2 separate regions of the Homo sapiens genome follow, and region 2 is linked to region 1. Evidence: fine-mapped expression QTL. A gene starts in region 1. The other region holds a variant in brackets. All regions are shown on one strand. Distances are from middle to middle. Region 1 holds the start of APOBEC3H (apolipoprotein B mRNA editing enzyme catalytic subunit 3H). Region 2 holds the start of APOBEC3F (apolipoprotein B mRNA editing enzyme catalytic subunit 3F).

What was found. PIP is the estimated chance that this variant, and not a neighbour inherited with it, causes the effect.
Region 2: its variant is the best candidate, but not a certain one, in a credible set for the expression of APOBEC3H in blood mononuclear cells (TOPMed, PIP 0.52).

Annotation. Positions count from the first base shown.
Region 1 is chr22:39,094,508-39,099,874 of GRCh38, reverse strand. APOBEC3H (apolipoprotein B mRNA editing enzyme catalytic subunit 3H) reads right to left here and starts at 2,631. Exons shown (of 5, transcript NM_181773.5): 1 at 2,532-2,631. RefSeq lists enhancers at 1,213-2,099, 2,430-2,769, 2,100-2,987, 2,310-3,509.
Region 2 is chr22:39,036,859-39,042,225 of GRCh38, reverse strand. APOBEC3F (apolipoprotein B mRNA editing enzyme catalytic subunit 3F) reads right to left here and starts at 1,362. Exons shown (of 7, transcript NM_145298.6): 1 at 1,249-1,362. The coding sequence starts at 1,265. RefSeq lists enhancers at 1-440, 1,493-1,552, 4,558-5,367. The variant G/A (reference allele first, on the strand shown) is at 2,595.

The DNA.
Region 1 (5,367 bases):
GTTCATTTGGGCCCTTCCCCTTGGTGAGGGAGGGTCTCCCCTTTAGTTGTTGGCCAGGAGGACTGCAGTGGAGCAGGGGAAGGAAGGGCTGGCAGGAGGACAGGAGGAGGGGAGTGCTCCCTCCCACCTTGTCTGCTATCTCCCATCCTCCCACCTGGGAGGGCACCGGCTGCTGCCCACAGCTGAGGCTCTTTGCATGGGGATGCCCCGACCTCGTCACTATTCTTCCTGGGTTGGGTGGGGATCCCCTGCCTGAGAACTGTGGGTGTGCCTTTCTGGCTCCCCTGGGCTCAGAGCTGCTCTGAGCTGCTCACACGCCTCTGGCCTGAGTCCCAGATCCCTCTTTCCAGCTGCAGTTGGACACCCCCTCCTTGAGGTCCACAGGCCTCTCGACCCCTACATGTCCAATACCAGAACCCTTCCCCTTGGGGAGTGATGGGGTGGAAACTGGGGCTTCCTCCAGCACTGTGCTCTTTGCTCAGGTGTGTGTTTGACAAGTTTGTCTGCACAGAACACAGTTGAGTGAACAGAAAAGCTGTTGTCACCAAGGGAGTGTTGTGACACATTTTTGGCTGAAGAAATTACATAGATTTTGCTCTCCTGAATTGTGATTACATTCTACAGAGGATTCAATTTTGGATTTTGCTTTTTTTTTGTTTTTGAGAGAGAGTCTTGCTCTGTTGCCCAGGCTGGAGTGCAGTGGTCCAATCTCAGCTCACTGCAAGCTCCACCTACCAGGTTCAAGTGATTCTCCCGGGTTCAAGCAATTCTCCTGCCTCAGCCTCCCAAGTAGCTGGAATTACAAGCGCCCTCCTTCATGCCCGGCTAATTTTTGTATTTTTGTAGAGATGGAGTTTTACCATGTTGGCCAGGCTGGTCTTGAACTCCTTTGACCTCAGGTGATCCACCCACCTCGGCCTCCCAAAGTGCTGGGATTATAGGCGTGAGCCACCGCGCCCCGCCAGGATTGTGACCCATGCGCTCACCTCCTGTCTCCCCGAGGGCCTGAGCTCCTTTTCTTTGGCCTGTCTGATTGATGGTTGCCCATCTACTTTCTATTCTGCTTTCTGGAAAACCCCTGAGCATTTCAAGCCTCCAAGTCCTGAGAATTTCTGCAGCTTTCCCAAGCAGGAAGACCAGGGAGAGGAGAAGAGAAGGAGATGCTGGCAGGGGCAGCAGGGCCGGGGTGACCTCTCCCAGCTCAGGGCCCTAGCTCTGGTCTTTCCAGGGATGGATCTCCCATCCTCCCAGTATTTCTGCCACCCATCCTCTAACCCATTAAAAATAAGAAAAGTGAATAAAATTCTCCCCTTCAAAATAAGAGCTCTTAATATTTCAGTTCAATTAATTCCTGGCATTTTACCTATTCATGTTATTTTATTTTATTTTTTTAGTTTTAGTAGATAAGGGGGTCTCCCTGTGTTGCCCAGGCTGGTTTGGAACTCCTGGCCTTTAGTGATGATCCTCCCCTCTCAGCTTCCCAAAGTGTTGGGATTACAGGCATGAGCCATTTTGCCTGGCCAGGCAGGAAAATGGCGTGAACCCAGGAGGTGGAGCTTGTAGTGAGCCGAGATTGCGCTCCAGCCTGGGCAACAGACTGAGACACCCCTTCTCAAAAAAACAAAACGAAACAAAAAATCAGGGTAGCACTTCCATCCCCAGGCCCAGGCCACTCTTCTAAGTGCTGAGAGGATCTGAGCTCACGTGAGGCTGCCCTAGGCCTGCAGGGGCCATTCTCATCTTACAGAGGAGGGGCCAGAGGTGCAGAGAGGTGGGGTAACCTGCCCAGGCCATGGAGCTGGGCCACTTTCCTGGCCAGCCCTGCCAGCCTCTGCATCACGGGCCCTGCAGGAGGGAGCCTTTGGGAACCAGGCTCTCTTCTTCCTAAATTTTAAAATAAAAGCATTTCTCCTGATCATTGAGTTTTTCCGTATATTCCGTGTTACTGGTGTCATTATAAACGGTGAATGTGAATACTGATCATGGAGGAGGAGTGTGTGTTCAGGGTCATCTGCATCCTCCTCTGCCCACAGTGGAGACATCCTTGGAAGAGATGATTTGCCTTGTGCTTCAGAGATCATTGCCTCCCCACACCCTCTCCTAAGACTTTGTATTGAAACAAAGTAATCTTACACAAAGTTCATCAAAGCACTGTGAACAAAATTCCAGATTGCTCCCATCATCCTTTAGTTCAGTTCTCCCAGTTCCAGAGCCCAGGAATGGCAGGAAGCACACAGAGAGAGCACCCTCCCAAGGTGGGGAGCACTAGCCCAGCCATGACTCTTAGGGGAGAGTCTCAGCAGGGGTCTTGGGCTGGTGCAGGCCGGGGAGGCGGCCCGTTCAGAAGCAGCAGTGGGGTGACCACACAGCAGGGCAAAGAGCCTGGGTGGGAGTGGGGATGGCAGGGGAGCCAGAGGAGAAGGAGCCCAGGGCTGGGGCTGGGGCAGCGGGAGGCCAGGGCTGAGGCACAGAAGGGCTGCCAGGCAGGAAGTGGCAGCAGAGGGCCCAGTGGACAGAGTGGGCGGCAGTACCTGATCTGTGCTTCTGGCCACAGCTTCCTTAGCAGACTTGCCCCTGCTTGTCTGAGGCACTAAGTTTCACTTTTGGCAGCTCTCCCAAAAGTCACAAAAGGTCAGCTCTCCCAAAAGTCACAAAAAGTCACTGCTTGATGAGGGTGGCTCCACCCTCTTCCTTTTGTGGGACTGGAGTGGGAGGGCCCTGGGGTGCTTCAGATCCCTCAGGCTCCTTTCTTTCTCTATTTCCTCGGGCTTGGCAGGGGAAGTCTGATGGAGGTGGCTCACCTCCCATCCTCCCACCCCCAATTCCCTCTCCAGGTACAGCCAGACTCAACTCCCTCCCCAGGTATAGTTTACAAAAGAACAAAGGCCAGATGCGGTGGCTCACACCTGTAATCCGAACACTTTGGGAGGCTGAGGTGGGCAAATTACAAGGTAAGGAGATGAAGACCATCCTGGCCAACATGGTGAAACCCCGTCTCTGCTAAAATACAAAAAATTAGCCAGGTTTGGTGGCCTGCGCCTGTAGTTCCAGCTGCTTGGGAGGCTGAGGCAGGGAAATTGCTTGAACCTTGGAGGCAGAGGTTGCAGTGAGCCGACGTCGCACCACTGCACTCCACCCTGGCAACAGAACGAGACCCTGTCTCAAAAAATAAATAAATAAATAAAAATAAAAAAGAAAGAAAAAAGAAAGGAATTGATGGCTGGTCACGGTGCCTGTTATCCCAGCACTTTGGGAGGCTGAGGCAGGTGGATTGCCTGAAGTCAGGAGTTCAAAATCAACCTGGCCAACCGCACTCCAGCCTGGGCAATAAGAACAAAACTCCGTCTCAAAAACTAAACTAAACTAAAATAAATGAAAGGAATAGAAGCCACAGAAAGGAGCAGGGATCCAGACCAGGGCTGACACCATAGACCAGATGCCACTCCCCTGGTGGACAGGGCAGGCTGCAGCCCCCTCCCCACCACCCCACTGACCTTTGGCATTCAGCCTCCTGGCAGGACCCTGAGCCTGATGTGAAATGAGCACTGGGGTCAGGCTCAGGACTGCATCTCCAGCGGATCCAGTGCCCATTATCTAGCCCAGTCCCCAGATAGCACTGGGAGGGGAGGGCAGTGATCCTGACAGTCAGAGGAGGTCCCAAGCACAGAGAGGCTAAGATACTGTCCCCACGTCACACAGCAAATCAACAGCAGAGCTGGAGTGCTGGCCAGGACTTCCTGTGTCCCTTCTCCCCCACAGCTAGCTACTTTGAGGTTCTTCATTGCTCCATGGAAAGGAGCAGGAGAGGAGACACGAGGGAGGGGACTTACTGCTCCTAAAGGGCCTCCCAGGTCAGAGATGAAGGACCTGGACTTCACATTTGCATTCTGGAACCCATGTCCTCGTCTTCATGCATATCAACCAACACCCTTCAGATCATAAACACCAAAGAGCCAGGCCAGGTGCTGTGGCTCACGCCTGTAATCCCAGCACTTCGGGAGGCTCAGGCAGGCTGATGACCTGAGGTCAGGAGTTCGAGACCAGCCTGGGCAACACGGTGAAACCTCGTCTCTACTAAAAATACAAAAATTAGCCAGGCGTGGTGGCGGGCATCTGTAATCCCAGCTACTCAGGAGTCTGAAGCAGGGGAATCATTCGAACCTGGGAGGCAGAGGTTGCAGCGAGCCGAGATTGTGCCACTGCACTCTAGCCTGGTCGACAAGAACGGGACTCTGTCTAAAAGAAAAGAAAAAGAAAAACCAAAGAACCCCTAGGAAAGTTGAATCCCAAGGGCGAGGACTAGGGGCAGTCACTGCGGAGTCTAGGTTCCACACCAAGGAGTCCCATTGAACCTTGCCCAGCTTGTCCCTCCATATCCTCCCGCCCTGCACACCCTGACAGCCCTCTAGACCCTGCATGGCCCCTGGGGTCACAGGAGCTTGGGTGAGAATTTAGAAGGTTCCTGGGAATGGCATCCCCTCCACCCTATCTGTCCTAAATGTTGGGGCTACAGTCCATGGAAGATTCCAGAATGAGCGGGGTCCTGCCAGGAGAGACATCAGATCTGCACACTGTAGTGCTGGTTAATCACAGAGCTGAGTCTCCCAGGCTGAGAAGCAGGGAGGATGGAAAGGAAGGCGGAACCCTTTCCTGGTCCTTCCCACAGGCAGCATTCCCACTACTCCTCCAGTGAATTCCTGCAGCAGAGACCCTGTGGTGTCTAGGACGGGCCTGTGCTTAGGTGTTATCTCCAGGAGGACGGGAGGTTAGGCTGGCCACTCTGGCCTGTGTTCGTTGCTGCAAAGGGGGACCCGATCCAGACCCCAAGAATGGGTTCTTGGATCTCTCACAGGAAAGAACTCAAGCTGAGCCACAGGGTGCGGTGAAGTTGTGATCATTTATTAGAAGCTCCGGCACTACAGACTAGGGAGGCCTCAGAAGGCAGAAGGAAGAACGTCCCGTCTTTGTTTTAAGCTTCTTTTTTTTTTTTTTGAGATGGAGTCTCGCTCTGTCACCCAGGATGTGGTGCAATGGTGCGATCTCGGCTCACTTCAACCTCTGCCTCCCAGGTTTAAGAAATTCTCCTGCCTCAGACTCCCGAGTAGCTGGGTTCACAGGTGTGCAGTGCCACACCCAGCTAATTTCTGTATTTTTAGTAGAGAGGGGATTTCATCATATTGGCCAGGCTGGTTTCAAACTTCTGACTCCTGATCTGCCCACCTCAGCCTCCCAAAGTGTTGGGATTACAGGTGTGAGCCACCACGCCCGGCCTAAATCTCCCCTTTATAAGAACACCAGATTTATTGGATTAGGAACTACCCCAATGACCTCATCCACTGTGCCTGGCCTAAACTCTCCTTATATTGG
Region 2 (5,367 bases), 58 kb after region 1:
ACTATTGTTAAATCATGGTAGAACCGAATTCTGAGGCCCAGGCCACTCTTCTAAGTGCTGCGCGGATGTGAGCTCATGTGAGGCTGCCCTAGGCCCGCACGGGCCATTCCCATCTTACAGAGGAGGTGCCAGAGGCGCAGAGAGATGGGGTAACCTGCCCAGGCCACAGAGCTGGGGACGGATGGGGCTGGGGCCTCTTACCAGACCAGCCCTGTCCAGTCTCTGTGTCACCAGCCTTGCAGGAGGGAGCCATTGGGGACCAGACTCTCTTCTTACTAAATTTTAAAATAATAGCATTTCTCCTGATCATTGAGTTTTTTTCCCATATATTCCATGTTTTTTGTTTTTGTTTTTTTTTCTTTTGAGACGAAATTTGGCTCTTGTTGCCCAGGCTGGAGTGCGATGGGGCGATCTCGGCTCACTGCAACCTCCGCCTCCTGGGTTCAAGCGATTCTCCTGTCTCAGCCTGTGGAGTAGCTGGATTATAGGCGCCCGCCACCACACCCGGCTAATTTTGTATTTTTAGTAGAGACAGGGTTTATCCATGTTGATCAGGATGGTCTCGAACTCCCGACCTCAGGCAATCCACCCACCTCAGCCTACCAAAGTGCTGGGATGACAGGTGTGAGCCACCGCACCCGGCCACTATATTCCATGTTACTCGTGTCATTTATAAACAGTGAATGCTGATAGTGGAGGAGGAGCGTGTGTTTGGGGTCATCTGCATCCTCCTCTGCCCACAGTGGAGACATCCTTGGAAGATACGATTTATCTTGTGCTTCAGAGACCATTCCCTCCCCACACCCTCTCCTAAGACTTGCTATTTAAGCAAAGTAAATGTTACAGAAAATCCATCAAAGCACTGTGAACAAAATTCCACATTGCTCTAATCATCCTTTGGTTCAATTCTCCCAGTTCCAGAGTTCAGGAATGGCGGAAAGAACACAGAGGGAGCACCCTCCCAGGGCCGGGAGCACCAGCCCTGCCATGACTTTCGGTGGCGGGGGAGAGTCTCAGCAGGGCACCTGGGCTGGGGCAGGTGGGGAAGCGGCCTATTCAGAAGCAGCAGTGGGGCAACCACAGAGCAGGAAAAAGAGCCTGGCTGGGAGTGGCGGGGGCAGGGGAGCCAGAGGGGAGGGAGCCCAGGGCTGGGGCTGGGGCAGGGGGAGGCCAGGGCTGACGCCCAGCAGAGCCACCAGGCAGGAAGGGGCAGCAGAGGGGCCCAGCGGGTAGAGCGGGCAGCGGTACCTGAAGTGAGGCTTCATCCTTGGCCGGCTAGTCCCGACTAAGATCTTTGTCTGGAGCACCAGGGTTTCACTTTCTGCTCCAGGCTCCAGGTTTCAGGACAGCCCTCCCTAAAGTGACCTCCCAGGGCCTCGTAGTCATGGCCCCTCCCCCTTCCTGCTCAGGCGCTGGTGTAGGAGGCCCTGGGACGCTTTATCTTCCTCAGTCTCTCACCCTCTTTCTGGTTTTCTCTGGGGCCCTCCCCCTGGCAGAGGGACCTCTGATAAAGACAGGCCGCTCTGTGCGGCAGGACCCAAGGCAATTGCAAAGGGAAAGAGAAAGTCATTGCAGCCAGCGCCCGCGAGGTGGGTCCACACCAGGCTGAGCCAGCAGAGCACAAGCCCCTCCCCTGGTGGTCCCGCCCAGCTGGAGCCTCCTCTCCACCATCAAGACAGACAGGCTGATGCCTCCGCAGGGACTCCCGGATCCTGCCCTCGGGGATCATCCCAGAGACGGCCCCCACCCAGCGGCCATGGGGACAGGGAGGGAGAGTAAAGGGCCAGGTGTCTGCCTCTCCCCAGGCCTTCACCCTCGGAGGCCACCGTGGGAGGGAGGGACAGCAGGTGGGTGTGGGCCTCAGATGTCCCACCGGGATGCCATGCGCGCCCCCACACTGAGCTCTTTCCTTCCTGCTTCTCCTTCTTCCCCATCTCCTGCCCGGAGTTCCTCCCTGGTGGGCTGAGCTCTCGCCTCCTCTTGTCCCCATGTCATGGAAGAGCAGTGGCTGGTGTCCCAGGCCAGCCTGTCTGGAGCCTCCCTGCGCGTCTCACAGCTCCCTTCCCCTGGTAGCGTGTTCCCATGGCGCGGTGACCTAAAAATTACACAAGGGATGCATTTGGTTTTTTTGTTTGCTTTTGTTTTTTTGTGTTTTTTTGTTTGTTTGTTTGTTTTGAGACGGAGACTTGCTCTGTTACCCAGGCTGGAGTACAGTGGCGTAATCTCAGCTCACCGCAACCTTTGCCTCCCAGGTTCAAAAGATTCTCCTGCCTCAGCCTCCCATGTAACTGCGATTACAGGCACCCACCCCTACGCCTAGGCTAATTTTTGTATTCTTAGTAGAGACAGTGTTTCTCCATGTTGGTCAGGCTTACAGCCGCCCACCACTATGCCTGGCTAATTTTTGTATTTTTAGTAGAGACAGGGTTTCTCCATGTTGGTCAGCTGATCTCGAACTCCCGATCTGAGGAGATCCGCCCGCCTTGGCGTACCAAAGTGCCGGGATTACAGGTGTGAGCCACCGCGCCTGGCCACAATGTATAAATTTGGAAAGGAGATTTTATTTCTTGTTAAGGGTGACAGGCAGCAAGGTA[G/A]CCATCCCGCAGCCTGGGAAGAGCAGCCTCTGGGAAACACCAGAGACAGACATTTAGAAGCAGGAGGGGTTGGGGCAGGAGCTTTATGCTGAAGGGGTTGGCTAAACATACATATTCAACAGGCTATAGGAGGAGCTATGAATATTCATGTGGGTGGCTGCACTCCATGCTTATTGAACAAACATGCGTGTAACATATGATCCCAGGCAGGCACAGTGGCTCACGCCTGTAATCCCAGCATTTTGGGAGGCCGAGGCAGGTGGATCATCTGAGGTCAGTGTCAGGCCTCTGAGCCGGAGCTAAGCCATTGTGACCCCTGTGAACTGCACATATACATCCAGATGGCCTGCAGCAGCCAAGAAGTCTGGAGCAGCCAAAAAAACACAAAAGAAGTGAAACAGCCAGTTTCTCCCTTAACTGATTAACCAACCTTAAGACATTCCACCATTAGGACTTGTTCCTGCCCTACCCTAACTGATCAATCGACCTTATGACATTCTTCTTCTGGACAATGGGTCTCATGGTCTCCCACCATGCACCTGGTGACCCCCTCCCCTGCTGACAACAGATGACCACCTTCGACTGTAACTTTCCACCACCTACCCAAGTCCTATAAAGCTGCCCCTCTCTTATCTCCCTTCGCTGACTCTCTTTTCAGACTCAGCCCACTTGCACCCAAGTGAATAAATGGCGTTATTGCTTACACAAAGCCTGTTTAGGTGGTTTTCTATACAGACACGCATGACAGTGAGGAGTTCGAGACCAACCTGGCCAACATGGTGAGACCTGGTCTCTACTAAAACTACAAAAATTAGCCGGGTGTGGTGGCACGTGCCTGAAATCCCAGCTACTCGGGAGGCTGAGGCAGGAGAATCAGTTGAACCCAGAAGGCAGAGGTTGCAGTGGGCCGAGATCGCGCCACTGCCCTCCAGCCTGGGAGACAGAGTGAGACTCCATCTCAAAACAAAAAACAAACAAACAAAAATCTAAAAAAAAAAAAAGCAACCGTATAATCCGTCCTCACATTGCGGTGGAGACAACATTTAAATGTACCACAATTAAGCCTGTATGTCAAAAGGTCCTTTCAGGACATGAAGGCACCAAAATTTGCCAGGTCTGTAAACCATTCAGAACTAGTCCGTGGTCCGTGGTCTTCCGATCTGGAGAAAGTTACTGAAATCAGTCTCTTGTCCAGGGAAACCTGGAATTAGGGCTGTGGAGCAGGGGCTCTGTTGCTCCGCGTCCGGGCGCTGGGTGAGCTGTGATTGTTTTCATCTTTATCTGGAGGCAGTGCTTGTTTAGCTGCTAGAGCAAAAAAAAAAAAAAAAAAAAAACCTTGGGGCAGGCAGAACAGAGTTGACTGTTTAAGTGTGGGGTGTGTGATCTCACCCTTGCCTGGCACGGCCTGAGGTCCTGGTTGTGATTTGGTATCTGATTGCCATGAAGAGTCTGTTCTGGTTCTGCCCATCTTATGATTCTGTTTTAACATTACTGCTGGTCAGTTGTGTCTAAACTGCAAAAGGGCGGGGTGATAATGAGGCGTGCCTGACCTCCCCTCCCATCATGGCTGGGAACTCAGTTTTAAGGTTTTTCTGAGATACCCCTGGCCACTGGGGGCCAAAGTTGGGGGGGATCGGTGGGGGCTAAAGACTTTATTTTTAGTTCATAGGCCTTTGGACTAAGCTCTGATTTGTTTTTATTTAATCTTGCCCAAAATCCTATCTAAGGGGTCTGGGGAGTCATGCCTTACAACCCGTACATCCTCATCAGAGGGGTTCTATTTTTTTTTTTTTTTTTCCTATTGTATTTTAATGGAGGCCGAGTTTCACTCTTCTTGCCCAGGCTGGAGTGCAATGGTGTGGTCTCGGCTCACTGCAACCTTCGCCTCCCGGGTTCAAGCGATTCTCCTGTCTCAGCCTCCCAAGTAGCTGGGATTATAGGTGCCCGCCACCACACCTGGATAATTTTTGTATTTTTAGTAGAGACAGGGTTTCACCATGTTGGCCAGGCTGGTCTTGAACTGCTGACCTCAGGTGATCCACCCACCTAGGCCTCTCAAAGTGCTGGGATTACAGACATGAGCCACTGCGCCCGGCCCACATGGGTTTTATTTAACCCTATATATTGTGAGTTACTTTCCAATCTGACTCAGGCACAACATTATGTGACAAAGTAAAAAGACAAAATATTTTACCCCAAAACATGTTTCTTTGCCATATCTTGAAATGGCCCTGCAAAGTTGTCCTTTGTGGGGCAAAATTTGTATCTGTAAAGAATCTCTATTAACATAGCTGGATCTTTTTCTTCTAGGCCCTCCCGGTCCTAAACAGATGAACTAATTGCACCTTTTAAAGGCCTGAATGGGAAACATTTGTCATCTATTGTCTCTAAGGGCAGCCACTATGAGACTTCAAAAGAACCTTGATCTCCACAATCTTTTATCTTAACCTGAACGTTTCCTTTCTATGGATGCCAGGTCTCTAGACAAACTCAACCAATTGTCAACCAGAAAATGTTTAAATTTACCTGTAGCCTGGAAGCCCCCCAGCACTCCTGCCCTCACTTTGAGCCGTCCGACCTTTCTGGAGCAATCCGAAGTATTTCTTTTCTTTTTTTTGAGACGGAGTCTTGCTGTGTCGCCCAGACTGGAGTGCAGTGGCGTGATCTTGGCTCACTGCAACCTCTGCCTCCTGGGTTCAAGTGATTCTCCTGCCTCAGTCTCCCGAGTAGCTGTGATTACAGGTGCCCAGCACCACACCTGGCTAATTTTTTG